Homo sapiens: one gene and its partners. The protein of the gene in region 2 binds, or shares a complex with, the protein of the main gene of each other region. Each region holds a gene or a part of one and is shown on either strand. Other genes may lie near its edges. The genes, in order: GPKOW, EFTUD2, SNRNP200 and CRNKL1.

Region 1 (6,989 bases), on a different chromosome or scaffold from region 2:
GGAGTGCAGTTGCATGATCTCAGCTCACTGCAACCTCAGTCTCCTGGGTTCAAGCGATTCTCCTGCCTCAGCCTCCCGAGTAGCTGTGATTACAGGCACGTGCCACCATGCCCAGCTAATTTTTGTATTTTTACTAGTGATGGGGTTTCGCCATGTTGGCCAGGCTGGTCTTGAACTCCTGACCTCAGGTGATCCGCTGGCCTCAGCCTCTCAAAGTGTTGGGATTACAGGCGTGAGCCACCGCCCCTGGCTGACTCCAAGGTTTTTATGCTGAGTGAGAGGAAGGATGGATGGAATTTTTGGTCACCTGATATGTAGAAAGCTGCAGGAGGAGGTTTATAGAGGGAAAAATTAGAAGAATGAGGCCAAAGCTGGAACAGGATGAAAGGATGAAGAGGGAAGTGAGGATCTTTTTTTTCTTTAAAGATGAAGGAGCTGGGCACAGTGGCTCACGCCGGTAATCCCAGCACTTTGGGAGGCTGAGGTGGGTAGATCACTTGAGGTCAGGAGTTCAAGGCCAGCCTGACCAACGTGGCGAAACCTCGTCTCTACTAAAAATACAAAAATTAGCCAGGCGGTAGTGACACGTGTCTGTAATCCCAGCTACTTGGGAGGCTGAGGCAGGAGAATCGCTTGATCCCAGGACCGGGAGGTTGCAGTGAGCCGAGATCACACCACTTCACTCCAGCCTGGGCGACAGGGCAAGACTCTATCTCAAAAAACAAAAAACAAACAAACAAAAAAATGTTGAAGGAAACCAGGGCACATCTGAAGGCTGAAGAGAACAGTTCAGTTGAAAGAGAGAGTGGTGTGGGGCTGTAGAAGAACTAGACTCAAAAGAAGCAGTGCAAGAAATTTATGAAAGAAGAGGTGAAAAGTCAGGTCTGTGGGTATGAAAGACAGACTTGGTTACTTCTGTAGACATGCCTCTCACGTCCCCTCTTGTCACCTCCCATCATCACTCCTTCCCATTCACTCCAGATACACCACATGTTGCCTCACTGATGGACACACCATATCGATTTTCTACCACTATGCCATTGCTTGGGCTGTTACTACTAACAGGAGTACTCACTCTGTTCTTCCCTCTCTCACTAAACCCTACTTATCCTTCCAGACCACTCTGGTCTAAGTCCCCAGCATCTCTAGCCTGGACTACTCATCCCCTTGCTTCCACCTTCACTAATGAGTCTGTTCACAGCTTCCAGAGGGATACTGTCAAATCATAAATCATATTTCATCTATGCTCAGGGCTTGTCCAGGCTCTCATCTCACTCAGAGTAAAAGCCAAAGTCCTCACAATGGCCTACAAGGCCCTGCCTGGTCTAGCACCCCCATCTCCTTTCTGACTTCGTCTACTACCCCTTCCCCTTACTCATTCCACTTCAGTCACACTGGTCTCCTTGGTGTTCCGCAAACACTTTAGGCAGTGTCTACCTTCAGGGCCTTTACATTTCCTGTTCCCTTTGCTGCACACCTCATTCAGATAATCCTAGGATTCAAGTACGTTTTTAGCATCCAGATACCCAGATTCATTTGGTAATGCTTCCAAAATGATGACAGGAGAAGGGGCAGGTGGCGGGCCTCTAGCACACACACAGACTTTCCCTGCTACGTGCAGGGACACAGCCTGGCGGACAGGGCAAAGAAAGGCTGGGGCAGGAGGGGGACAAGGGGCCAGCTCACTGTCTCTGCCCGGGGTTCGCTGTCTGCCCCTTCCCCGCTGGGGGTGCATCCTTTCTGGATCATGGGGATAGCGAGCGTGGGGTCGACACCCGCATTCTCTCTCTCTTCCAGAGACTTCTTGGATTCTAAAGGAAGAATAGGAGGGAGCAATGAAGTCCCACTCTATCCTTCCACCTTCTTCCTCTTCTTCCTTCAATGGGGAAGGGTAAAGGGGTATCACTCACCCGCAATGAGCTCCTTCACAGCCTGGGACACCACCCCATCCGCCAAGGCCCCAGTATCTGTGGATGGCCCAGGGGGCCGGGCTGGTGGCTGCCTGCGATGGCCATTCTGGATCAAAGGGATGACGAGTTCCTTGGGGGCCTCCTGGGGCTTCACACTGATGTGGACACAGAGGGGTGGGGTTGGGAGAATGGCAGGGTCAGTGGGTCACACTCCTTCATTCAGAGAAAACACAAGAGCCAAACTCACCCCAGCCCCACAGACCATGTCTTCCCTACTCCATGTCTGGATCTCCTGTTCCTCTCTGATCGTGCATTCTCTGGATTATCTCCCCAGTGCCCCCAACTCATAAATGTCAGTGCCTTCGAGAAATAAGTCCTGCACTCTCTGTTTAACTCAATACCGGCTTCTACAATGGCCCACAAATCACTATCTTCAGCCCAGACCTTCCCCAGCTCCAGGTTCCCAAACAGCTTCCTAGATGCCTGATTCTCTTCTGGAAATCCCTCCCTCAGACCCCTCAGACACTCCTCTCCTCATTAAGCTGATGGTGGCCTCCATCAACCTGAATCTGCCGCTCCATCCCGTTCCCCATATCGGGGACGCCTCAGCCCTTCAGTTGAGACACTAGCAGGTCCTGTCATTTTCTCATTCTTTCCTTCTCCCAGAACGCACAGACCTTAGTGTCTTCAAGTCCTAAAGACACTTCTTCTCAGTAATACATCCTCTCTTCGCAATTCCCACAGCTATCAGGCCCAATTTCCTCACCCCCTCCTATAAACTCCCGCCTTCTGGCCTCCACGAATTTACTCAGGCTGTGCTTCAGGCTTAACAGGTCACTGTCACCAAGACAAACAACTGAGATTCCTCCCTCCCGCTTACGCCCACCGCAGAGATTTCCAAGGGGTGAAAGACCCGGCGCGTCACCTCTGCAGCTCCCTCCCTTCCACGGTTTTCAAGAAATCCTTCTCCTCCGGAGATGGCCCCGCGCCGTCTCCCGAGTCGGCCAGCCGCCTCCGTGCGGACGTGCGAGTGAAGCCGAATGAAATTGGGGCAGTGGAAGCAGCCGTCAGCGGCAAAACACCCTCTTTGGAGTCAGCCATCTTGCTCCTTTTCCCAGGCCGGCGCGCTGCTTGCTGGGAAATTTAGTTTGGGTTCAGATCGCTAGGGGCCGGCCAAAGTGCGTAAAAACTACCTTCCCATCAACCACTGTGGCACCGGCGGGAGGGGGCGGTAAGGGGCCGTGGGAAGTAATTGTCGCTCTTTCAAACGTGGTGGGAGCGCGTCGCGCCAAGCGCCCAGGGAAATGTAGTTTTTTTTTTGTTTGTTTTGTTTTGTTTTTTAAGATGGAGTCTCGCTCTGTTTCACAGGCTGGAGTGCAGTGGCGTGATCTCGGCTCACTGCAACCTCCGCCTCCCAGGTTCAAGCGATTCTCCTGCCTCAGCCTCCCGAGTAGCTGAGACTAAAGGCATGCGCCACCACGCCTGGCTAATTTTTGTATTTTTAGTAGAGACGGGGTTTCACCGTGTTAGCCAGGATGGTCTCGATTTCCTGACCTCGTGATTCTCCTGCCTCGGCCTCCCACAGTGCTGGGATTACAGGTGTGAGCCACCACGCCTGGCTGGAAATGTAGTTTTTAGCGGGGTAGGCATGGTGGAAGGTGGATTCATTCTTGCCAGACATTAATCTTCCTTCGTGTAGGCGTTTGACAAGTATTTATGGAGCGCCTAATGTGTGCCCTACTTATGTGGGAAGTGTTGATGAAGTAAATCATTTAGAAATAATCAGCTGGGTGTGGTGGCGCGCACCTGTAGTTCCATTTACTCCGCAGGCTGAGGCAGGAGGATGGCCTGAGGCCTGGGAATTCGAGGCTGCACTTAGCTCTTATCGCACCACTGCATTCCAGCCTGGGTGACAGAGCGAGACCCCATCTCTAAAAAAGAAAAAGGTCGGGGGTGGGGGGGATGGAGCGTCAGTTGTGTACAATAATAAATAATAGACATAAAATAAATAATAGACATAAAAAACCCCGTCTCTACTGAAAATACAAAAATTAGAGGGGTGTGGTGGCTCATGCCTGTAATCCCAGCATTTTGGGAGGCCGAGGCTGGTGGATCACCTGAGGTCAGGACTTTGAGACCAGCCTGACTCATATGGTGAAACCCTGTCTCTACTAAAAATACAAAAATTAGCCGGGCGTGGTGGTGGCGCCTGTATCCCCAGCTACTTGGGAGGCTGAGACAGGAGGATTGCTTGAATCCGGGAGACAGAGTTTGCAGTGAGCCGAGATCCTGCCACTGCACTCCAGCCTGGGCGACAGAGCGAGACTCCGTCTTAAAAAAGAAAAAAGAAAGAAAGAAAGAAATAGTGCCTATTGGCCAGGCTCATACCCGTAATCCCAGCACTTTAGGAGGCCGAGGCGGGCGGATCACTTGAGGCCAGTAGTTCGAGACCAGCCTGGCCAACATGGTGAAACCCCGTCTCTACTGAAAATACAAAAATTAGCGGGGTGTGGTGGCGCATGCCTGTAATCCCAGCTACTCGGGAGGTTGAGGCAGGAGAATCGCTTGAACCCGGGAGGCGGAGGTTACAGTGAGCCGAGATCTCAACACTCCGGCCTGGGCTATAGAGTGACACTCAGTCTCAAAAACAAAAGAAAAACAAAAGAAAAACAAAAAAAAAAAAAAAAAAAAAAGAAAAAGAATAGTGCCTACTGATGTCAGATTTTAATACTCAACAAGGCACTAGATTCAAATATCAATAAAATAGGCTGGGCACAGTGGCTCATGCCTGTAATCCCAGCACTTTGGGAGACCTAGGCGGGCGGACCACCTGAGGTCAAGAGTTTGAGACCAGCCTGGCCAACATGGCAAAACCCAATCTCCACTAAAAATACAAAAATTAGCCGGGTGTGGTGGCACATGCTTGTAATCCCAGCTACTCGGGAGGTGGAGGCAGGAGAATCGCTTGAACCTAGTAGGTGGAAGTTGCAGTGAGCCAAGATTGCCCCACTGCACTCCAGCCTGGGCAACAGAGCGAGACTCTGTCTCAAAAAAAAAAAAAAAGAAAAAGAAAAGAAAAAGAAAAAAAAGAAACTTGTAGTCTAGTAGGGAATACAGACATTTAAATACATATTTTAAAAATATAGCAACATGTGCCGAGCTTAGTGGCTCACGCCTATAATCCCAGCACTTTGGGAGGCCTAGGCAGGAGGATTGTTTGAGCTCAGGACTTTGAGACCACCCTGGGCAACCTAGTGACACCCTGACTCTACAAAAAAATTTAAAAATTAATGGGGTGTGGTGGCGCACATCTGTGGACCCAGCTACTCAGAGGGCTGAGGGGGGAGGATCACTTCAGCCCAGGAGGTTGAGGATGCACTGAGCGGTGATCAGGCCACAGCACTACAGCCTGGGCAACACACACACATATACATATAGCAACATTAAACATATTGTGAGAACCAGGTCCTAAGGCTTCAAAGATTACTGATATGAAGGAAAAATGAAGCAGTCAGAAAATTAAAAAAAAAAAAGATTATTGAGACAGATCTCTCTTGTGTAGGACCTCAAGAGTTCATACAGGCAGGGTGCGGTGGTTCATGCCTGTAATCCCAGCACTCTGAGAAGCCGAGGCAGGTGGATCACTTGAGGCCAGGAGTTCAAGACCAACCTGGCAAACATGGCAAAACTCTGTCTCTACTAAACATACAAAAATTGGCCGGGCATGGTGGCAGGCGCCTGTGGTTCCAGCTACTCAGGAGGCTGAGGCATGAGAATCGCTTGAACCCGGGAGGTGGAGGTTGCAGTGAGCCGAGATCACGTCATTGCACTCCAGCTTGGGCGACAGAGTGAAACTCTGCCTTAGAAAATGAAAAAAAATTTAAAATGAAAAAAAAAAAGAGTTTATACAGAGTGGCTTATACAGAGTTGCTGGGTGTGGTGGCTCACACCTGTACTTTCAGCACTATGGGAGGCTGAGGCAGGAGGATTACTTGAGGCCAGGAGTTGGTGGATACAGTGAGCTATGATCGTGGCACTGCACTATAGCTTGTGTGACAGAGCAAGATCCTGCCTCTAAAAAAGTAAATAAGTAAAATAAAAATAAAATAGTTTGTACAGTAGATGACAGATACTTAAATATTCTTAAGAAAGAGTAATATAATTCTGCTACAAATTAGGCTCAAGGATATCATTGAAGATGTGTAAAATAATTTTTTATGAGATTCATTATCATATTATTGTGGCAAAAGCTTGAAGACCACTTAAATTATCAACAGAAGGGGATGCAGTAAATGAATTACAGCACACACCTTGGATGAAAGAAATACGCCTTTACATTGGAAGTTGTAAATAAATATATATATATAAAATATATATATATATACATATATATTTTTTTTGAGACAGGGTCTCACTCTGTTGCCCAGGCTGGAGTGTAGTGGTGTGATTTCGGCTCACTGCAACCTCCACCTCCCAGGTTCAAGCGATTCTCGTGCCTCAGCCTCCTGAGTAGCTGGGATTAGAGGTGCCTGACACAACGCTGGGCTAATTTTTCTATTTTCAGTAGAGGTGGGATTTTGCCATGTTGGCCAGGTTAGTCTCAAACTCCTCACCTCAGGTAATCCGACTGCCTTGGCCTCCCAAAGTGCTGAGATTACAGGCGTGAGTCACTGCATGACCAGCTGCTATAAATATAATTAAATGGACTGGGCACGGTGGCTCATGCCTATAATCCCAGCGCTTTGGGAGGCTGAGGCAGGCAGATCCTCTGAGGTCGGGAGTTCGAGACCAGCCTGGCCAACATGGTGAAACCCCATCTGTACTAAAAATAAAAAATTAGCCATGTGTGGTAGTGGTTACCGATAATCCCAGTTACTCGGGAGGCTGAGGCAGGAGCATCGCTTGAACCCAGGAGGCAGGGGTTGTGGTGAGCTGAGATTGTGCCACTGGACTCCAGCCTGGGTGACAGAGCTAAACTCCCTCTCAAATAAATAAATAAATAAATAAATAAAAGAAAAGAAAAGAAAAAAATATAAAATTGAATGAAATGGGGACATACCATATTTTGGAAGGTAAATT
Region 2 (7,026 bases):
GAAATGACATTTTATCTGTGTATGCTGATGGGGATGATCCTGTAGACAGGGAAAACTGATGGCACAGGAGAGAGAGGGCAGAATTGCCAAAGGTCTTGAGTGGTGAGAAGGGATGGGATTAGTTTCTAGTAGACAGAAACATGAACAAATCATTCGTAAGAACGGAAGGGAAGGCATCGTATATGAGTACAGATGTAGGCAGGTGGGTAGAGGGACTGCTGGGTGCTTGTTTTCCTTCACACAAATTCCAGCATGCCAACCTCTTCCTTAAGAACACAAAACCCTCCAGTGGTGAGACCGGCTACCTCCTACCATCTTACACTCTACTTCTACTAAAGTGGCCTAAGATTACATTAGCTCTTTTGGCAGCCACATATATCCTACTGGTGGTGGCTCCAAATAGCTATCAAGCCAGTTTTCTCCTGCCCCATACTGCTGAATATATTATGAATCTAACTGCAGGATTTTATATAATAATTTCTGACTGCCTGTAATTATCTCTATCCGAGTCTACAGTAGCTCAACAAGTCTAAACAAATAAAACTAAACAAATATTCTTTTATCATTGCTTTTTCTAATTTTTAATTTTTTTATTTTTTTGAGATGGAGTTTCACTCTTGTTTGCCGGGGCTGGAGTGCAGTGGCGCGATCTCAGCTCACTGCAACCTCTGCCTCCTGGGTTCAAGAGATTCTCCTGCCTTAGCCTCTGGGCATGCCACCCAGGCGCATGCCACCACGCCCAGCTAATTTTTGTATTTTTGTATTTTTGTATTTTTAATAGAGACAGGGTTTCATCACGTTGGCCAGACTGGTCTCGAACTCTTGACCTCAGGTCATCTGCCCACCTCAGCCTCCCAAAGTGCTGGGATTACAGGCATGAGCCAACGCACCCAGCCTTAGAAGGGACATCTTTCTTTCCTGTCCCCATTACCAAAATCTATGCATCTCTACTGTTATATACCTCAATATAATTAAAAAAAAAAATCTGTCCAGGTGCGGTGGCTCACACCTGTAATCCCAGCACTTTGAGAGGCTGAGGCGGGCAGATCACCTAAGGTTGGGAGTTCGAGACCAGTCTGACCAACACGGAGAAACCCCATCTCTACTAAAAATACAAAACTAGCCGGGCGTGGACGCACATGCCTGTAATCCCAGCTACTCGGGAGGCTGAGGCAGGAGAATCGCTTGAACCCGGGAGGTGGAGGTTACAGTGAGCCGAGATCATGCCATTGCACTCCAGCCTGGGCAACAAGAGCGAAACTCCATCTCAAAAAATAACAATAATAATAAATCTATGCATCTTGTGGACTAGGAGGCTATAACCCTCATTCTGCTGGAAAGAGGGTAGACCAGTACAGCCATTTTAAAGGGCAATCTGACAGTACTTAGTATAAACATATTAACTAAGTATAAATACAATAAGCATATGTAGATAGAGATATAATATCCTACAACCAGCAACTCTGCTCTTGGGAATATAACCCAAAGAAATTTTTCCACATTGCATAAAGGGACACATATGAGAATGTACACTGGATTATTAATTACGGCGAGGGAAGGCTGGTGACAGGTAACCTTGGTGTCTATCACTAAGAGAGGAATGTCACCAGGGCAAACCGAGTAGCAGTCAGTTCCCACAGACTAGATGTACACACAGCAACAGGGAGAAACCCTAAAATGCACCACTCATCATGATGCTGAGTGGGAAAAGAAACAGAACAATGCAGACAATGATACCATTTACTTAAAATACACACACACTATGCAACTCATAGAAAAAGAAACATACATAAATTACAAAGAACTGTGGTGGCAGGTATGGGAATGAGATAAATGGGAATTAACAAATTAATTAAATAACAGCAGAGCTCTCACAGCAATGACACTGAGGAGTAAGAACTAAAGAGTATGAGTGACTCAACTGTTTGTACTGAGGTAAAAACCTTCATAGGGTCTCACTCTGTTGCCCACGCTAGAGTGCAGTGGCATGACCATAGCTCACCACTACCTCAAATTCCTGGGCTCAAGCCATCCTCCTGCCTCAGTCTCCTGAGTAGCTGTGACTACTGGCATGTACCACCATGCTTGGCTAATTTTTAAATTTTTTGTAGAAATGGGGTCTCACTACATTGCCCAAGCTGGTCTCAAACTCCTCGGTTCAAGTGATCCTCCTGCCTTGACCTTCCAAAGTGCTGGGGTTATAGGTGTGAGCCACTAAGTGTTTAGCCCATTATTCTTTATTTTAAAAATTTTTTTGTTAATAGCTTTATAGAGATATAATTCACATTCCATACAATCTATCCATTTTAAGTGCATAATAGTTTTTAGTATATTCACAGAATTGTGCAACCATCACCACGATCAATTTTAGATCATTTTCATCACCCTAAAAAGAAACTCTGTTACTTACCAATTCCACCTGCCCTCACTCCCAACAAAAAAATCCTGCCTCAGCCTCCCGAGTAGCTGGGATTACAGGCGCGCACCAGCACACCCAACTAATTTTTTGTATTTTTAGTAGAGACGGTTTCACACCACGTTGGCCAGGCTGGTCTCGAACTCCTGACCTCAAGTGATCTGCCCGCTTCAGCCTCCCAAAGTGCTGGGATTACATGTGTGAGCCACCACGCCTGGCCTATTACTGGGTTTTTAGTCCCAAATTCATGTATGTTGGGATCACTTTGAATTTAGATTCTGTTATCCAATACATTAGTTTTATGTCATGTGCAAATTAGATAAACCTCTGTTCTCTATCTTTACCCAAGTCACTAATAGGCTGAATGACGGGGCACAATGGTTCCCCTATGTAATCTCAGCATTTTGGGAGGCCAAGGCAGGCAGATTGCTTGAGCCCAGGAGTTCAACACCAGCCTGAGCAACATAGTGAAACCTTGTCTCTATTTAAATATATTTTAAGTTGAAAAGGACAAGACCAAACACAGATGCCTAGGACATGTCACAAGAGCTCTGCTGGTGACCCATTAATCAAAAATCTTTGTGTCCCACTGTTCAACCAGCTGTGACCTCCTCTAATTGTATTATGATGCAGCCCATGTTCTTTTCACTAGGACATCATGAGTTACAGAGGTTAACTGGGGAAGAAGAGTGAATGGAATGAGAACAAAGGAAACCTTTCTATCAACATGGTTTGAATGAGAATGTATTCATGAATTACCTATATAATTAAAGAAAAACACACTGTAAAACCTTTTTTTTTTTTTTTTTTTTTTTTGAGATGGAGTCTCGCTGTGTCACCCAGGCTGGAGAGCAGTGGCTCGATCTCAGCTCACTGCAACGTCTACCTCCCGGGTTCAAGCAATTCTCCTGCCTCAGCCTCCTGAGTAGCTGGGATTACAGGCATGTACCACCACACCCAGCTAATTTTTGTATTTTAGTAGAGACGGGGTTTCACCATGTTGGCCAGGCTGGTCTCAAACTCCTGGGCTCAAGCGCCTCAGCCTCCCAAAATGCTGGAATTACAGGCGTAAGCCACCACACCTGACTGTAAACCTTATTTTCAAAAAGAAAAAAAAATGCTGGTTTATAAGACATCAATAAAAAACTTCAAATGTCTTGCCCAAATCAAGATACATCATGTCCACAGCATGCCCCTGACCTGTGGCTCAACCTAGTAATCCTATCAAGAGAAAATTATTTTTATAAAACTCATGCTAGCTTCCTAAGTACTCAACAGTCATTTTTTTTTTTTTTTGTTTGAGACCGAGTCTCACTCTTGTTGCCCAGGCTGGAGTACAGTGGCACAATCTTGGCTCACTGCAACCTCCGCCTCCCGTGTTCAAGTGATTTTCCTGCCTCGGCCTTCCAAGCAGCTGGGACTACAGGCACGCGCCAACAAGCCTGGCTAATATTTGTATTTTTAGTAGAGACGGGGTTTCACCGTATTGGTCAGGTTAGTCTTGAACTCCTGACCGTGTGATCTGACCACCTTGGCCTCCCAAGGTGCTGGGATTACAGGCATGAGCCACCACGCCCGGGCCCTTTCTATTGCTTTTATGCATCTCTGAAAATCTGAGCTTGTGAGGGAGCTCCCAGTGCAGCTGTAGCTGGAAGAGTTGAGTATCTTTTCCAAGTGGGAATTATTCATGACTGTTAAAAGACACTTCAGGGAAATGGAAGAACTAATGATCAACTAGAGCTCAGATTACAAAACCATCTCATCAATGAAACTACATATTCCCTTTTGGAACCTTAGTAGCGAAGCTTTGCTGGAGCAGTATGAGATCCCACTAAGTCATGTTATAAAAAGGACAATCTCAAGAGACGTACCCAGGGTATCACTGGAACACAGAGGATTCAAAATTTCATTGTTTTTTAAAAAAAGGTGGGGGGGGGGGTGGGGGGGCAGGCATGGTGGCTCATGCCTATAATCCCAGCTCTTTGGGAGGCCAAGGCAGGTGGATTGCTTGAAGTCAGGACTTCAAGACCAGCCTGGACAACATAGTGAAACCCTGTCTCTACTAAAAATACAAAAAACATTAGCCGGGCATGGTGGCACACACCTGTAATCCCAGCTACTCAGGAGGCTGAGGCATTGAGAATTGCTTGGACCTGGGAGGCAGAGGCTGCAGTGAGCCAAGATGGTGCCACTGCGCTCCTGCCTGGGCAACAGGGTGAGACTGTCTCAAAAAAAAAAAAAAGAAAAAAGAGGGGGCTGGGCATGGTGGCTCATGCCTGTAATCCTAGCAGTTTGGGAGGCCAAGGCAGGTGGACTGCTCGAGCTCAGGAGTTCAAGACCAGCCTGGGCAATGTTTCATCTCCACGAAAAATAAAAAAAAATTAGCTGGGCATGGTGGTGCATACCTGTAGTCCCAGCTACTTGGGAGGCCAAGGTGGGAGGATCACTTAAGCCCAGGAGGTGGAGGTTGCAGTGAGCTGAGATTGCGCCACTGCACTCCAACCTGGCAAGAGAGTGAGATCTTGTCTTAAATAAAATAAATAAGAGTGAGATAAAAGAGCAATATATTTGTTTTACCTCATCAAGATCTTTGGTCTCTCTACCCAATTCATCATCATCTTCATCAGAATCAAGCTCTGGTCCAATATAATTCCCAAACTCATCATATAAGTCGGTATCCATGATGCTAAAATTCAAGGAGAGAAGAGTTAGATTCTGACAAGGTAATCAAGGCCTTCATGTGGTGGCTCCACCTGTCTAGTCTTAGTCTTATGGTTGGCCATACCCCTTTCACATGCCTCCTCTCCAGTGACATCAACCTACTGAATGCTCCTCCCAAAGCCCAGTACTTTCCCCAAGTCTCTGCCTTACTTGTCTCTATTTATGTAGTCTTCCCTCCACTTTTCTTGTTTTGGGTTTTAAGGAGCAGAGAGTTGAATAGGCAAGAAGGAAGAAAGAAGACAGAAGGAAGAAGCTCCGCCGTACAGAGATGGGGCGTGGGGGGCGCTCCAAAGCCAAAAGAGGAGGTCCCCCTCCCTCCACTTTTTTAATACTAAATTTAATTTTAAAACAACTCAGTATCAAAAAATGGCAAGAACAGTACAAATAACTTACTTTTTCCTAAATTATTTGAAAGTGAGCTGTTGACACAATGGCTCATCACCTCCTAATACTTTAGTGTAAGGGTGGGCAAACTCTGGCCTGTGGCCAAATCTGGCCCCTCCAGCTGTTTTTACATGGCCCTCAAGCTAAGAATGCTTTTTCACATTTGTAAATTGCCAGGGAAAAAGTCAAAAGAAAAATATTTCATGATACATGAAAATTAATTATAAGGAATTCAAATGTCAGTGTCTATTAAAAAAGTTTCATTGGGAGGCCGGGCGCGGTGGCGCATGCCTGTAATACCAGCACTTTGGGAGGCCAAGGCAGGCAGATGACCTGAGGTCAGGAGTTCGAGACCAGCCTGGCCAACATGGCAAAACGCTGTCTCTACTAAAAATACAAAAATTAGCTGGGTACGGTGGCTCACACCTGTAATCCCAGCTACTCAGGAGGCTGATATAGGAGAATCCCTTGAACCCAGGGGGTGGAGGTTGCAGTGAGGCGAGATGGCACCACTGCACTCCAGCCTGGGAGACAGAACAAGACTCCATCTCAAAAAAAAAAAAAAAAAAAAAGTTTCACTGGAAAACAGCCATGCATATTCATTTGCATCATTTACAGTTGCCTTCACACTGTAATAGCAGAGTTGAATAGTTGAGACTGAAACCATATGGCTCACAAAGCCTAAAATATTATCCAGTCCTTAATAGAAAAAGTTTGCCAACCTCTCCCTCACCATGTGTAATTCCTACAAACAAGAACATTCTCCTACATAACCACAATACAACCATCAAAATCAGAAAATTGATATTCACACATTACTACCACCTTCTTTACAGATCCCATTCAAGTTTCACAGATTGTTCCAATAATACCTTACACACCTAAGGATCCAATCCAGGATCATGTTTGCATTTGGTTGTCATGTCTCTAGTCTCTTTGGATCTACAATCTTCAGTCTTTGGATCTACAATCTTCAGTCTTTCCTTCCAAGGACTGTCATGAAATCCTTAAGGATGTCCCTTGATTTGAGGTTGTCTGATGTTACCTTATGATAATATTCAGGTTATGCGTTTTGGGCAGGAATATCATAGAAGTGATGCTGTGTTCTTCTCAATGCATTTCGTATCAGGTGATACATGATTTCAATTTGCCCCATTAGTGGTAACGTTAACTTTGATCACTTCATTAAGGTGATGTTTGCCAGGCCTCTCCATTGTAAAGTTACTCATTTTCCCTTTGTAATTAAGTAGTGTTTTGTGGGTTTTCTCCACTTCAATTACTGAAATTCTATTCAAAGAAACAGTTCAAATGCCACCACCTCCTTCAAGCTTTCCTAGCTCCTCAATTTCTCATTCCTCTATCCTACTAGAGCTTTTTGCACCTTTATCAGTATTTAATTTTGTCTTAAATAGTAGTTAACTGGCTGGGCACAGTGGCTCATGCCTGTAATCCCAGCACTTTGGCAGGCCAAGATGGGCGGATCATGAGGTCAGGAGATAGAGACC
Region 3 (7,026 bases), on a different chromosome or scaffold from region 2:
TCATCACCCGCAAGGGTGGTGAGCGCACCTACACCCAGCTGGTGCGGCTCATCATTCTGGTGAGTTGGGAGCAGTCGTAGAATATAGAGTCCAGTTGTGTCAGGGCGGGTTTGCTGGGTTTTCATGCGAAATGTTTCTTTGCTGCCTTTTCTGTAGGCACTAGCCTTTGTAATGACTAGTCCTCCAATTCCGTAGGATGAGATCCATCTTCTCCACGATGACAGAGGTCCTGTCTTAGAAGCTTTGGTGGCCAGGGCCATCCAAAACATTATAATGACAGCTATTGTCAGCTTGTGTTTGCCATCTTATTTATTTATTTATTTGTTTGTTTGTTTGTTTGAGATGGAGTCTAGCTCTGTCGCCCAGGCTGAGTACAGTGGCACGATCTTGGCTCACTGCAGCCTCTGCCTCCCGAGTTCAAGCAATTCTCCTGCCTCAGCCTCCCCTGTAGCTGGAATTACAGGCGCCTGCCACCATGCCCAGCTAATTTTTATATTTTTAGTAGAGACTGGGTTTCACTGTGTTGGCCAGGCTGGTCTCGAACTCCTGACCTCGTGATCTACCCACCTCAGCCTCCCAAAGTTCTGGGATTACAAGCGTGAGCCACTGCGCCTAGCCTGCCATGTTATTCTTTATATATTTTTTTATGTCTGAAATATTTTACTACACTTGATCTTAAGCCAAAAGGCCAAGAAGCTATGTCTGAAATATTTTGAAACAAATGTAAACAGATAGACAAAAAACCATCATATCCAACATCATTTAGGGTTTTATAAGTAAAAGAATCCATTCTCTGAGGGAATGAGTGAGGAAGCAGGATATTGTATTCCATATACACAGAAACTTCCAGAGATTAGTGACTAAGTCTGAGTATAGTTTAAGTTGTCTGGGAAAAGCAAGAAAGGAGACTTCACGTGTTGGTTTTCAGTGTTCTGGAGCAGGGGTTGGCAGTCTGTGGGTACTGGCTTTGTTCTGTTGGAACATAGTTACACCCATTTGTTTATGTATTGTTTACAGCTGCTTTTGGCTGCAATGGCAGAGCTGAGTATTTGCAATAGGGGCTGCGTGGGCCAAAGCCTGAAATACTGACTGTCTGGCTTTTTTTTTTTAGACGGAGTTTCACTCTTGTTGCCCAGGCTGGAGTGCGATGATGCAATCTCAGCTCACTACAGCCTCCGCCTCCCGGGTTCAAGCAGTTCTCCTGCCTCAGTCTCCCGAGTAGCTGGGATTACAGTTGCCCGCCACCATGCCCAGCTAATTTTTTGTATTTTTAGTAGAAATGGGGTTTCACCAATCTGATGGCCAGGCTGGTCTCGAACTCCTGGCCTTGGGTGATGCACCTACCTCAGCCTCCCAAAGTGCTGGGATTACAGGCGTGAGCCACTGCCCCCGGCTTTTTTTTTTTTTTTTTTTTGAGATGGAGCATCTGACTTTTTAAAAAAAACATTTCTGGTCCCTGCTTTAGAGCTTTGCTACTTGAAGCCTGATCCATGGTTGGGGTCATAGCAGCAGCAGCATGGAATAGGAGCTTGTTAGAAATGCAGGATTTGTGGCCTCACCCCACACCTGCTGAATACAATCTCCTTTTTAACAACATCCCCTGGCTTTGGGATACTTAATAAAATTTGAGATGCACTGCTTTAGACTATTCAAACTCATCATTTGATGTGTGATAGCTTTTGTTCTTGGGAACTATAACTGCCAGAGGTGAAGCTTCTGATCAGATCATATTTATATCCTTTTTCATAAAGAAGTTTACCTTTAAGTAAAGTTTAAACTCATTTATCTGAGTTTCAGAATTTCTTTATACAAAGTATGTTACTGAACTGTACCAAAGCAACTCATGGTCAGAGTCTGTTACTTTCTGGAGTATTTCATGGGAAATATTGTCTCCATCCTTTGGGCATCTGTGGCTTGGGATCCCTTGTCTTTTTTCTTAGGCATATTAGGTTATATGCCTACAATATGGGACAATTCCAGGAAAAGGGACTATGTATCTCTAGTGCTAGAGGTAATTTCTGTCCTCCAATTCCGTAGGATGAGATTCATCTTCTCCACGATGACAGAGGTCCTGTCTTAGAAGCTTTAGTGGCCAGGGCCATCCGAAACATTGAGATGACCCAAGAGGATGTCCGACTCATTGGTCTCAGTGCCACCCTACCCAACTATGAAGATGTAGCCACCTTTCTACGTGTTGACCCTGCCAAGGGTCTCTTTTACTTTGACAACAGGTATCAGGAAAGACTGGGCAAAGTTCTGCCAAGGTGACCATCCTGCTCTCTTTCCTCTTTTCCAAGGAGTGCTACTGGGTTGGGTTTTAGAAGGGCCTTTGGGTTTTGATGTGGTGTGAATCATAAAGGAGGAATATTGCTCTTGGGGCAGTGAAAAAGACTGTTTATTCCCACAGTATTTTCTGCCAAAGCCTCATTTGTCTAACTGTTGAACTTCTAGCTTCCGTCCAGTGCCTCTGGAACAGACATATGTGGGTATCACAGAGAAAAAAGCTATCAAGCGTTTCCAGATCATGAATGAAATCGTCTATGAAAAAATCATGGAACATGCTGGAAAAAATCAGGTTTGCCCGTGGTTTATGGTTACTCTTGAACCCCATTCTTTCGAATGTTTGATTCACCAATAATTGGGGAAGATTGACAGAAATTAAAAGAGAGAAGACACAACATAAATCACCAATATCAGCTATGAAATGGGATATTACTACAGAACCTATAGCCACTGGAAGGATAATAAGGGAATACTATGAGTAATTTTATGCTCATAACTTTAAAAATTCAGAAGAAATGGACCAGTTCTCCAACAACTACCAGTTAACTAGCAAAACTCAGCCCAGATGAAATAGATAACATGAAGAGCCCTACAACTATTAGAGAGTTGGAGAATTAAAAATCCCCCCAGCAAGCAATCCCCAGTCCCAGATAATTGTTTTGTGCATTCGCATTATCCAGGGTCCCTCCATAAAAGATTTGGGGTCACTTACACTAAAAATGCAAGACAATAAAAAGAGGAAAATGAAAAACTAGAGGGCATTTTACTAGACAGTGTGATAGAATTTTTAAATTGAAAGTCGAGTTGAGCAATGTTAACTAACAAAAAATAAGGAAAAGTGACTGGTTTTGTATTTCTTTTTGTCTGATGAAAAGAAGCATATGAATTTATATGAAGAGACAGATCTTTTCTTGGCACTAAATACTAGGAAGACTTCATTCCCTACAACAGTGTACTAGTCTCAGACTTATTTCCTAAATCCTTTTATAAGTAGTGTAATGTTTTAGTTGTTATTTTGCAGACACATTTTCATGCAGCTTTGACTCTTGTTAGGTGCTTGAACATAAATTCTGAGTTGAGAGGCCCGAATTTGTAGTTGTAGTCTATTTAAAGTTGCTGTTCAAGATAGGATGTTGAAGTTGGTTTAATTTCTCAGCTCCAGGACTGTGAACTTGGTGGGTGCATTCCCTTAAAAGTCTTTCCAGCCGTGTTTAGGCTTCCTCTGAGCCTGCACACATTCCTGCCCTTGCCCCTCTCCAGGACCTTGGCTTCTGGTGGTGATGGTGCAACTTCTGCTTCCTGCTGCAGGTGCCCTGGGGCTGTGAGTATCTCGTGACTGTAGCAAACTGTGGCTTCTCCTTAGGTGCTGGTGTTTGTCCACTCCCGGAAGGAGACTGGAAAGACAGCCAGGGCCATCCGGGACATGTGCCTAGAAAAGGACACTCTGGGTCTGTTTCTGAGGGAGGGCTCAGCCTCCACAGAAGTCCTGCGAACAGAAGCTGAGCAGTGCAAGGTGAGGAGGGGCCAGCTGGGTTCTCTCATTCCTACCTGGCAGCTGTGTCCATCTCAGGCCCCAGACAGCTCCTCTAGGACTGTACTGTGGTATTGTTGTTTCCCATGGGTTAAGGTTGATTGTCTGGATGTGATTATTACTATTCCACATAATAGTTAAGGGGCAGGGTCTCATGGGAGGAGATTTCCTTAGTCCTTGGATGAGTCCTACAGGAAGGCTCGCCTCATCCCCGGTTCTTTGTTCCACAGAACCTAGAGCTGAAGGATCTTCTGCCTTATGGCTTTGCTATTCATCACGCAGGCATGACCAGGGTTGACCGAACACTCGTGGAGGATCTTTTTGCTGATAAACATATTCAGGTGAGGGGGTGCAAAGCGTTTGGAGGAGCAGGTGGGACATACTTCAGAAGATGGGCAATGTCAAGTTTGTGCCATGTTTGCTCCTGGTACTTTATTGCTTCTGGCCCAGCTAGCCCAGGTCAGAGGGTTGTGGTGGACACAATAAATAGAACCTTATGCTACTCTCCCAACTCTTCCCACCTTGCTTGAGTTTAGGATAGTCTGAGAAGCATAGTGAAGCAAGCACTTTGGTGACTTCAGATAGCTCCAAACAGTGTCTCATGGGGGCACGCGTGCCCTTGTCGTTCCCTCTTTCCGGATAGGCTCTGTTTTACCTTTTCTAGTAACTTTAAGGTTGTTTAATACAAGTCTGCACTTGTGCCTCTGGAACCTTGAAATGTTCATTACTGAATAGATGAGGAACCCAAGGAAACCTTTCCTCTTTATTCTGGTGTCACATTGACAAGTACTGGGACCCCACGCGCCCTACCGGCTAGTCCTGAGAGAAGCTCTGAGGCCAACTGCCTAGAGAAGCCAGGGATATTAACCCCTGGTGATGGCATCTGTTCTCCTCATTACCTTGTTTTGCCTCTGTAGGTTTTAGTTTCCACAGCAACTCTAGCTTGGGGTGTGAATCTCCCTGCACATACAGTCATCATCAAAGGCACCCAGGTGTACAGTCCAGAGAAGGGGCGTTGGACAGAACTGGGAGCACTGGACATTCTGCAGGTACAGAGCCTTTTGAGTTTATTCTCAGCAGGGATCAGTATCCTTGCCTGAAATGCAGGGATGCTGGAAAGCTAGCAGATCAGAGGTCTAGTTCTGTAATGTAGATACCTGCATCAAAATTCAGACATTCTCTTGACATAGCATTCTTGGTTCGCTGTCTCTGATCTAGATGCTGGGACGTGCCGGAAGACCCCAGTATGACACCAAGGGTGAAGGCATACTCATCACATCTCATGGGGAGCTACAGTACTACCTGTCCCTCCTCAATCAACAACTTCCTATTGAAAGCCAGATGGTTTCAAAGCTTCCTGACATGCTCAATGCAGAAATCGTGCTAGGAAATGTCCAGAATGCCAAGGTAGGGGAGGACTGCTTGTTGTGCTTCATGCTTTCCCCGCAGACACCAAGGCACCAGGAGTGGGTCGGTCCCTATTGTGCTGCGGGCCAGCAGCGTCCGAGGCCTTCCATCCCTGCACCCACATCTTGGGTCTGGCAGATAGTTCCCCTTGTTACCAAGATCTTAGAAGACGCTTAGATCTTTTTAATAATGAAATGCTAAAAACATTCAGAATACGATGTAATATGCATCCTTGTAGTTGGGAATTAATTTCTAAGCAATTCATGGGAGCCTGTCATTTGGACATCAAGAGTTTCTCCATGCTAAGAACCATGAGCTGTGTCTTGTAGGATGCGGTGAACTGGCTGGGCTATGCCTACCTCTATATCCGAATGCTGCGATCCCCAACCCTCTATGGCATCTCTCATGATGACCTCAAGGGAGATCCCCTGCTGGACCAGCGCCGACTAGATCTGGTTCATACAGCTGCCCTGATGCTGGACAAGAACAATCTGGTCAAGTACGACAAGAAGACGGGCAACTTCCAGGTGCGTGGGGTGAGGGTTTTGAGGCAAAGGTCTCAGCAAAAGTTGTTGGCCCAGGAAAAAATTTTTCAGATTGCTCTCTTGATGTGAGTACTGCCTATCTAATCACCTGTTGCTTAGAACAGCAGAAAAATGGGTAGCTTTTCCCATAACTTGAGGTGGATAATTCAGCTGTCTTGTCCGTGCAGACATCATTTCACTATGGGTCAGCTTATTCTGCTGTTTTTCTTCATGTGCCTGGGCCTGGCACTTGTACTGCTGTGACTTCATCCAGTTGTCCTATTAGGACAATAATGACATTGGGTCATATACTTTACCAAAAAAAAAGTACAAAAAACCTATAGGACAGTAACTTATGGTCCACAGTTAGAGGTTGGAGCTCATTAATAGTCAGCACTGGATTGAGTCTACCTTCTCTCCAGGTGACAGAACTGGGCCGTATAGCCAGCCACTACTACATCACCAATGATACAGTGCAGACTTACAACCAGCTGCTGAAGCCCACCCTGAGTGAGATTGAGCTTTTCAGGGTCTTCTCATTGTCCTCTGAGTTCAAGAACATCACAGTGAGAGAGGTGAGCCTATGCAGCATGATGGGGCGGGGAGTTGGTGCTCACCAAGTCACTGAATGGTGTCCCTCCTCGGCCACAAGGCTTTCCCTTGACCTTTTCCTCCTTGTGGCAGGAGGAGAAGCTGGAGCTGCAGAAGTTGCTGGAGAGGGTGCCTATCCCTGTAAAGGAGAGCATTGAGGAACCCAGTGCTAAGGTGAGCTCCTCTCCTCTTTGCTTTGATAAGGATGAGGATTAAGTGGTTTTCATAATCTTCTAAAAGATGAACCTTGAATTTGGGTTCATGTGTGGTTTCCTGCTCAGTTCTCCTAGTTTTTGCAGCCTTCTCGCATGTTCTTTTTATATGAAATAACAATTATTTAGTATTTGTAAATCAAGACCTGTAGCAAATCTCACCTGGCCTGGATGCTCAGAGCAGAAATGTAATTCCCTTTCTTGGACTGTTCAGTGATTGGTCTCCTGCTGGCTGATTTTGCTTCTTTACAGATCAACGTTCTTCTGCAAGCCTTCATCTCACAGCTGAAATTGGAGGGCTTTGCACTGATGGCTGACATGGTGTATGTCACACAGGTGAGAGCGGAGTTGTATGGCAGCTGTGAGAAGGGGCCTGAACAGTTCAATCCCTGTGTGCTGTGTGCATCCTGGGGAAAGGAGGCCCGACCCTAGTGAGATGGGAGGAGTGCTTAGTTCTGCTCTTGCCGGGTAGTTGGTT
Region 4 (7,067 bases), on a different chromosome or scaffold from region 2:
GGCAAAAAGGGTCAAGTCAAAAGACAAATGACTAAAAATGACAGCACCCTTGGTCTATTTTAAGTCTTGTACTAAAATGGTTATTCATTTTGTTCATATTTAAGAGAAATTACATCCTGGAATCCTTGAGGAATAAGAAACCCACTACAGAAGGTTACAGTCAACTAACTGATACTTTAAAATGGTCTATGCTTGTCCCTAATAAAAAATGTTTTTGACTATTACCTTTAAGTCCTCTGGTAATTCTCAGAATTTCATATATAACAGCATTAGTGCTTTAAAACAGTCCCACATTCTAGAGTGAAGAGGTCAAATCAGATCCCAAAGTCTTCTCATGGTCCTTTTGCAGACCTCAATTCCTTTTCCTTTCTTTCTTTCTTTCTTTTTTTTTTTTTGAGACAAAGTCTTGCTCTGTCGCCCAGGCTGGAGTGCAGTGGCACGATCTCGGCTCACTGCAGCCTCTGCCTCCCGAGTTGCTGTGATTCTCATGTCTCAGCCTCCCGAATAGCTGGGATTACAGGCACCTGCCACCACGCCTGGCTAATTTTTGTATTTTAGTAGAGATGGGGTTTCACCATGTTGGCTAGGCTGGTCTCAAACTCCTGACCTCAGGTGATCTGCCCGCCTCGGCCTCCCAAAGTGTTGGGATTACAGGCGCGAGCCACTGTGCCCAGCCAGATCTCAATTCTTAACACAGAAGGTGGTATAGACAGAAGTACACAGTGCAGCCTTACTAAGCATACCCTCCTTCTTGTTGTCAGTTGTTCCATCTGCTAAACTTCCGCTCACTTTGATTCAGCATCAAAAATTATGCAGATTCAATTTCTTTACACTTTAACCAGACAACTCATGGCATATTTTATATAGTTCAGAAAAATGCTGTTATCTGGTAACCAGAAGTACATTATTCATGCGTCTGGAAACACTTAACCTCATCTTGCCCTACAGAATCCAACCAATGAGGAGCTTTTCAAACTGACCGATACAGTCTTAACAATTAGTGGACTGAAAGATACCACACTGACTGACCTTCCTTTTCCTTAGTTTATAATCATTTAATTCTTCTTCATCTGTGATCTTCTGTTGAGGTGGAGGTGGAAGAAGCTCAAGTTCTCTTTCTTTAGCCTCTCTTAAGAGTTGTTCAGCAGTTATCTGTACCTCAGCCGGGGCTTTGTTTTTCACCTTTTAAGAAAGAAGACATTTCTATTTTTAGTAGTTGCTCTTCACACAAGGCTTAAGAAACAAACATACATTTTTTAGGATATGAACTTTGTTAGTATTATCACAAGATGCCCTTTTTGTATGACATGTTCCCATTCCTCCATGAGACTGAAAAGAAAAAAAAAATACCGTTTTCTCTCTTATTCATAGTATCTACTGCAAAGCCATAGGTAAAAGTCTCAAGAGAAAAAGGTGGCAAAAATAATAGCAAGTTTTCCCTTTTAGATGAGTATAATAATAAACTTTGAGGCCGTCTAGGTAAAATTCTGACCAGAGGTTTTGTTTTATCAAAATGTGTAGCACATCTTATTAACAGCATTACAACCTGCATTTACAGAATTCTTCAACTTATTTAATGCCCCGGTGTATAACTGGGTTTGGTTTTACATGGCACTTCAAGTCAAAGGCAATTTCAGTAAGTTCTCATCATTAGACTGTAAGCTTCTTGAGGTCTTAGAAGCTTACAGTCTAACGTAGCTTAGAGCTGTGCTGTCCAACACAGTAGCTATGAGTCACATGTGGTGAGTACAAATTGAGGTGGACTGTAAGTGTAAAATACACATTGGTTTTGAAGATGAAGTATAAAAAAGAATAAACTACCTCATTACATTTTTTATACCGATTACATGTTGAAATGATAATATTTTGGATACATTAGCTCAAATAAAATATATATTATCAAAATTAATTTCACTTTTTTGCTTTGTTTTTACTTTTTAATGTAGATATGAGAAAATTTAAAATTTCATATGTGGTGTGCATTATATTTCCATTGGACCAGTGATGCCCAATAAAAGTTTATGTAGCTGAATTATAAAAAATGTTACTTAATGCCACATGTGGAGTAATGATGATAATGGTGATAGCTCATATTTAATAAGCACTAAGTGCCAGACACAGTGTTACTTGCTCTATATGCATTACTCCTGCGAGTCAGACAAATAGTTATGTAAAGGTCCAGTTCAAGAGAGTCATCCGGGCTCAAGAAAGACTGGAGGGAGGGTATCTGTAAAGGCTTCAAAGTCTGCCACATATTAAGCACTTGGTAAGTATTAGCTATCAAAGGAAATACCAGATAGTAAGTCTACTGTTTAATTAACTTATGATACTATACTACTCCTACCGTCTACTCTCGCCCTCCGCTGTCAGCTGGGCTAACTCCTATTCAGCCTTCAAGTCTCAGCTTAAAGGTCATTTCCTCAGCAAAATTTACTTTCAGGACCCCTTCATACGACCCCCTTATTCACGCCCATGGCATATTCTACTTTGCCTCTCGGTAACATCTAGCAAGGTCGTCTTTATACAGAAACTCGTGTTTTGAGTACTGCTTGTGGCCAGCGTACGAGCGTAGCTTCCCAGCGCCCAGTGCAGTGCCTGGCTCAGTAAATCTTCACCGAACCACCCCACTCCACTCCCCAGCAAAACCACCCCAGAACGAAGGCCACGCCAACGCGGGTCGTGCTCCGCGATGACAAGAGCCCGCGCCCCACCACCAGCTGCCCTTCCTCTCCATCTCTCAGGGTGAGCCTTCTCCCCGGCGGGAACACTCTCTCCCAACCCGGGCACCCTCAGGGCTGAGGGATGCCCCTTTCCTAGGCCACCTCCTACAAGGCCCCTCGCGATCGCCTACCTTGGCCACTTTGGGAATCCGCTGCTTCCCGGCCGCGGTGGAGGCCGCCATGTCTGCAGCAGTCGACCTCTGGACACCTGTCCCCGGCACGGACGCTAGAAATCGGCTCTGAGAGCTCACCGAAACCACAAAGCTTTCAGAAAACAAACAGGATCTCGGAACCGGAAGCGGAACTTGCAGGACTGACCTTTGACCTCTCGCTTGAGCCGTGACGGAGGCGGCACCGTTTCCATGGTGACCAGGCTGCGCGTCCTCCTTGCGGCAGCGCGTGGAGTGCGGCGTCCTGGAGCTGCGGATGAGGTGGGTAACGCCGTGCTGACTAGCAGCGACGCAAGGACTGCGGTGCAGGGCGTCCAGGGCGCATCCCCAGGTCAGCCTCCGGAACTGGGATGACCAGGCGAGGACGAGTGGCTCTGTCGAGCCGTGGCGCCCTGCAAGGGAGTAAGAACGGAGCTCCAATCTGGATGCTCGAGGGCGGGGGAAGAAGGGAGAGCGAGGAAACTACCATTCCCAGCATGCGACGGGGCGAGCTGCCGCCCTTTTAGGCTGCAATGCCTCGAGCATTGCATTCTAGTAGTCTCTGGGTCCACGCCCCCTCGTTTCTGGTTTCGGGACAGTTGTGCCCAAATAATTCTAAGGTGCCCAAATAATTAACTCTAAGGCTTGGAATTAAAAATAACAGAAGGTACTTTGAAGCCAGATATTAGGAAAAAATATAAATAGAGTAACTGGAAAACAACTCAGTCTTGTGATAAGAAACATGTTTAAATTCTGTGTGTGCCTTAATTACTCTAGTTAAATTTTCTTAGCCTCAATGTCCTCAACTATAAAACAAGGCTAATAACATCTGTTTCACTAGGATTAAAGACAAATGCTCAGTAGATGTTAGCTGTTATAATACTTAACCTGCCCTCAAAAACTGAAAAGCAAAGGTTAAGAGAATTTTTTTTAATAGACATTTTTAGAGAAGTTTTAGGTTCACAACAAAATTAAGTGGAAGACACAGAGATTTCCTCCCTCCACAGCTTCCTGCTATCAATTATTGTACCTCTTCCCTCCTCTAACAGCCTCCAACTCTTAAAAATATCCTCCACCAGAGCAGTACATTTGTTACAATCTTGAACCTACATTGACACATCATTATCACCCAAAGTTCATAGTTTATATTAGGGTTCACTCTTGGTGTACATTCTATGAGGTTGGACAAATGTATAATGACATGACTTGGCAGCTCATTTGTTAGGATAATTTCCACAGTTGCAAAGCTCTTTTGGTGTTTGGGGAAAATATATATTTATGTATGTAGTAATATCACGTCTACCAATGCAGATATTACTTTCAACAAAAGATTTATGCAGATTTCTAGAACTGCAGTCAGTTATAACCAACATCAATGTATTTGCCATAACTCTTTATTAACCATATTATTTAGATATTTTATCTCACTTTTCAAAATTTAAATAGAGAAGATTTTATATCACTTTCATAAAGCCACCTAACAAAATAAATAAATATTAAAAAGATGTTTCTTTGAAGTGATTTTCCTTAAATGTGTTACTGTAAACAATTGATTTACCAAATGAATCATTGGTTTAATCATCTGTTGCCTTTGCTCAAAAGTACAAACATGCTAGAATACTTTGCTTCTGATCACCATCCTTCTCTCTTACATTTCTGTTGTCTGGCAATTCAGTTCATCTCTGTGTGTGTTTTTTTTGTTTGTTTTTTTTTTTTTTTTTTTTTAGGAAAAATGTATTATCCTTCTTACTTTTTGCCATCAATGCTTTTGTAGATATACCTTCATGTTTACCTTCTTATTTCCCAGCATTTAATCTTGTATTCCACTTCTTTCTGATTTTATTCTTCTCAGAATATACCATCTCCTAGTTCTTTCTACAAGATTCTTTGAATTCTTTCAGTCTTTGTATGAAATTGTCTTTATTTTATCTTCATTTTAAAGTGATTGTTTAGGTTTATCAGTCTAGGTTAATGGTTATTTTTTCCTTTTATATTTTTAAAACACTATTCTAGTAGTTAGAAAACTATGGGCCGTAGACTAAATTCAGCCCATTGACTATTTTGTATGGACTGTGAATGAGCTAGGGATATATATATATATATATACACACACACATACATACACATATACACACACACATTTTACATTAAACTTTATATGTAGTTTACATTTTAAACATTTTTTAAAAATTACATGGCACATGAAAATTATACATAAGTCAACTTTCAGTGTATGTAAGTAAAATTTTGTGGGAATACATTCATGCTCATTTGTGCCGATATTGTCTCTGGTTGTTACTGTGCTACAATGGCAGAGTTGACTAGTTGTGTAGACAACATGTGGCTCATAAAGCTTAATGTATTTATTCTCTGGCCTTTTACAGAAGTTTGCTAACCCCCGTGCTACTGGCTTCTAATGTTGCTCATGAGAAATATTCTGTCAGTCTAATTATTTTTTATAGACAGTCTGTCTTTTGTCAGGTTCCTTTAAAGTTTTCTGTTTGTCTTTAGGGTTTTGTAGTTTTACTATATATTTGGAGTTTATTTGTATTTTTTGCTCTGAACTGAAGGTTCATGTCTTTCATCCATGCTAAAAGTAATTAGCCATTATTTTCAAATGTTTCATTTATTCCTTTTGGAATTCCCATAAGACAGATGTTTTTCATTCTGTCTTACATGTGTCTTTACTGAATTCTGTATTTTCTGTTTCTATGTGCTTCTTTCTAGATAATTTGTTCATAAGTATCTTCCAGTTTATTTTCTTTATTCTTCTGTTTTTAACCCATCCTCTTAGTTTAAATTTTAATAACCACGTATTTCATTTTTTAAGTTTCTGTTCTTTTTTAAATAATGACCTGTTCTCTTCTCATGACTTTTGTTTCTCTTTCTATATTTCTTTATTATAAACATACTTAGTTTGTAGTCTGTTTCAGAGTCTATCATCTAAAGTTCTTGGTGACTCCCATAATACACAGATTGTGTGGACTAGAATGCCATACCCACTTTAGTCTAGAATTTGGACTTCTCAGCAGTATTTTTGCTTTATTTTCTACCTAGAGCTTTGTGTAGAGAAAGCTTGTCACTTTCTTGGGCTGGTGAGTTTAATTTTTCTAGCCCCCTCACTTACCGAGGGGCCCATCCAAAGTCCCAGGTAGATGCATGGTTTAATTTTTAATTCTCTGTTTGGAGTGAGGTCCATTCTATCCCCAAAACCTGTGTCAGATCGGCTCACATCATTGCCACCTGGTTGGAGAATTTCCCTCGCTCGCTTTCTTTCTTCTTTTCTTGTTTTCTTTTTACCAAAGTCAGTTATCTAATTAATTATACTTCCTTATTTTATTCAGAATTTTTATATACTTGTAGCATTAGTTTATGATATGTTTCACAAACAAGATGTCTCATTCCAATTTTGCTTTCAATTTAAAACCAGAACAAGGAATGACAATATTTATGGTTAGCTTCGATAGGAGTCTAGACATTATTAATTTCTCCTTCATTGTTTTCCCTGTTTTGAGCTCACTGGCTAGTATATAATAAAATGGCTTTCCCTATGAAGGAAAGAAGGGAGGGAAAGAGAGAAGAGAGACTTACAGAAATTGAGACAATGAGAGAGAAATTGAAATCATTTTGTGACCTACTGTTTTTGTCAACAGCATTTCCCAAAGTGTCCTTCTGGAACGTTAGGTTCTCCACTGTTGCCGTCATTAGAGATTCTCTTCCCAAAGAGTGTCGGAAAGGCTGGGTTATACAAAGAAAACAAGTTGCTTTATTATGGAACCTCTCAAAGATGTTAATGGGCCTGGTGGCCCTTCAGGAAGCCTATTGCGAGCATTTCCTACACTTAACCACAGAACTTTTTTGGTCTCAAAATATGTCTCAAGACTGCTGACCTTCAGGGCTCCAGTTTGGAGAACTCTATTAAGAACATAGGCAGCAGCTGTCAGTATTTCCCCAGTAACTCTTCACCACATGCCATCGTGGCCGATTAAATATAAGAGGACCCTGAATCCGTAAATAATTCCTTTCAATGTTTTTCCAATTCTATTGTTAGAATTTTTTAAAGCAGCTTTGTTGGAAACAAAGAATATAGTTGCAGAAACTTCTAAACAGGCCAGTTCTCAGAAACTTCATTCTCCTATGGAGGAACGTCAGCTGGTTTGCAGTGACAGTTGTCACAGACTACACCCAGGGGAAAACG

What was found.
Region 1: EFTUD2 (region 2) and GPKOW share a complex: the UniProt entries of both Homo sapiens proteins name them as parts of the minor spliceosome.
Region 3: EFTUD2 (region 2) and SNRNP200 share a complex: the UniProt entries of both Homo sapiens proteins name them as parts of the minor spliceosome.
Region 4: EFTUD2 (region 2) and CRNKL1 share a complex: the UniProt entries of both Homo sapiens proteins name them as parts of the minor spliceosome.

What each region holds. Positions count from the first base shown.
Region 1 is NC_000023.11:49,120,712-49,127,700, forward strand, and holds the start of GPKOW (G-patch domain and KOW motifs-containing protein), read right to left. Parts: upstream 3,025-6,989; 5' UTR 3,012-3,024; coding exon 2,836-3,011; intron 2,066-2,835; coding exon 1,911-2,065; intron 1,812-1,910; coding exon 1,687-1,811; intron 1-1,686. UniProt on the Homo sapiens protein: RNA-binding protein involved in pre-mRNA splicing. As a component of the minor spliceosome, involved in the splicing of U12-type introns in pre-mRNAs.
Region 2 is NC_000017.11:44,889,424-44,896,449, forward strand, and holds part of EFTUD2 (116 kDa U5 small nuclear ribonucleoprotein component), read right to left. Parts: intron 5,103-7,026; 5' UTR 5,099-5,102; coding exon 4,994-5,098; intron 1-4,993. UniProt on the Homo sapiens protein: Required for pre-mRNA splicing as component of the spliceosome, including pre-catalytic, catalytic and post-catalytic spliceosomal complexes. Component of the U5 snRNP and the U4/U6-U5 tri-snRNP complex, a building block of the spliceosome.
Region 3 is NC_000002.12:96,288,521-96,295,546, reverse strand, and holds part of SNRNP200 (U5 small nuclear ribonucleoprotein 200 kDa helicase), read left to right. Parts: coding exon 1-59; intron 60-2,037; coding exon 2,038-2,231; intron 2,232-2,451; coding exon 2,452-2,575; intron 2,576-3,646; coding exon 3,647-3,796; intron 3,797-4,044; coding exon 4,045-4,155; intron 4,156-4,731; coding exon 4,732-4,863; intron 4,864-5,032; coding exon 5,033-5,221; intron 5,222-5,550; coding exon 5,551-5,748; intron 5,749-6,167; coding exon 6,168-6,320; intron 6,321-6,429; coding exon 6,430-6,510; intron 6,511-6,800; coding exon 6,801-6,884; intron 6,885-7,026. UniProt on the Homo sapiens protein: Catalyzes the ATP-dependent unwinding of U4/U6 RNA duplices, an essential step in the assembly of a catalytically active spliceosome. Plays a role in pre-mRNA splicing as a core component of precatalytic, catalytic and postcatalytic spliceosomal complexes.
Region 4 is NC_000020.11:20,049,441-20,056,507, forward strand, and holds the start of CRNKL1 (crooked neck-like protein 1), read right to left. Parts: upstream 2,903-7,067; coding exon 2,852-2,902; intron 1,183-2,851; coding exon 1,030-1,182; intron 1-1,029. UniProt on the Homo sapiens protein: Involved in pre-mRNA splicing process. As a component of the minor spliceosome, involved in the splicing of U12-type introns in pre-mRNAs.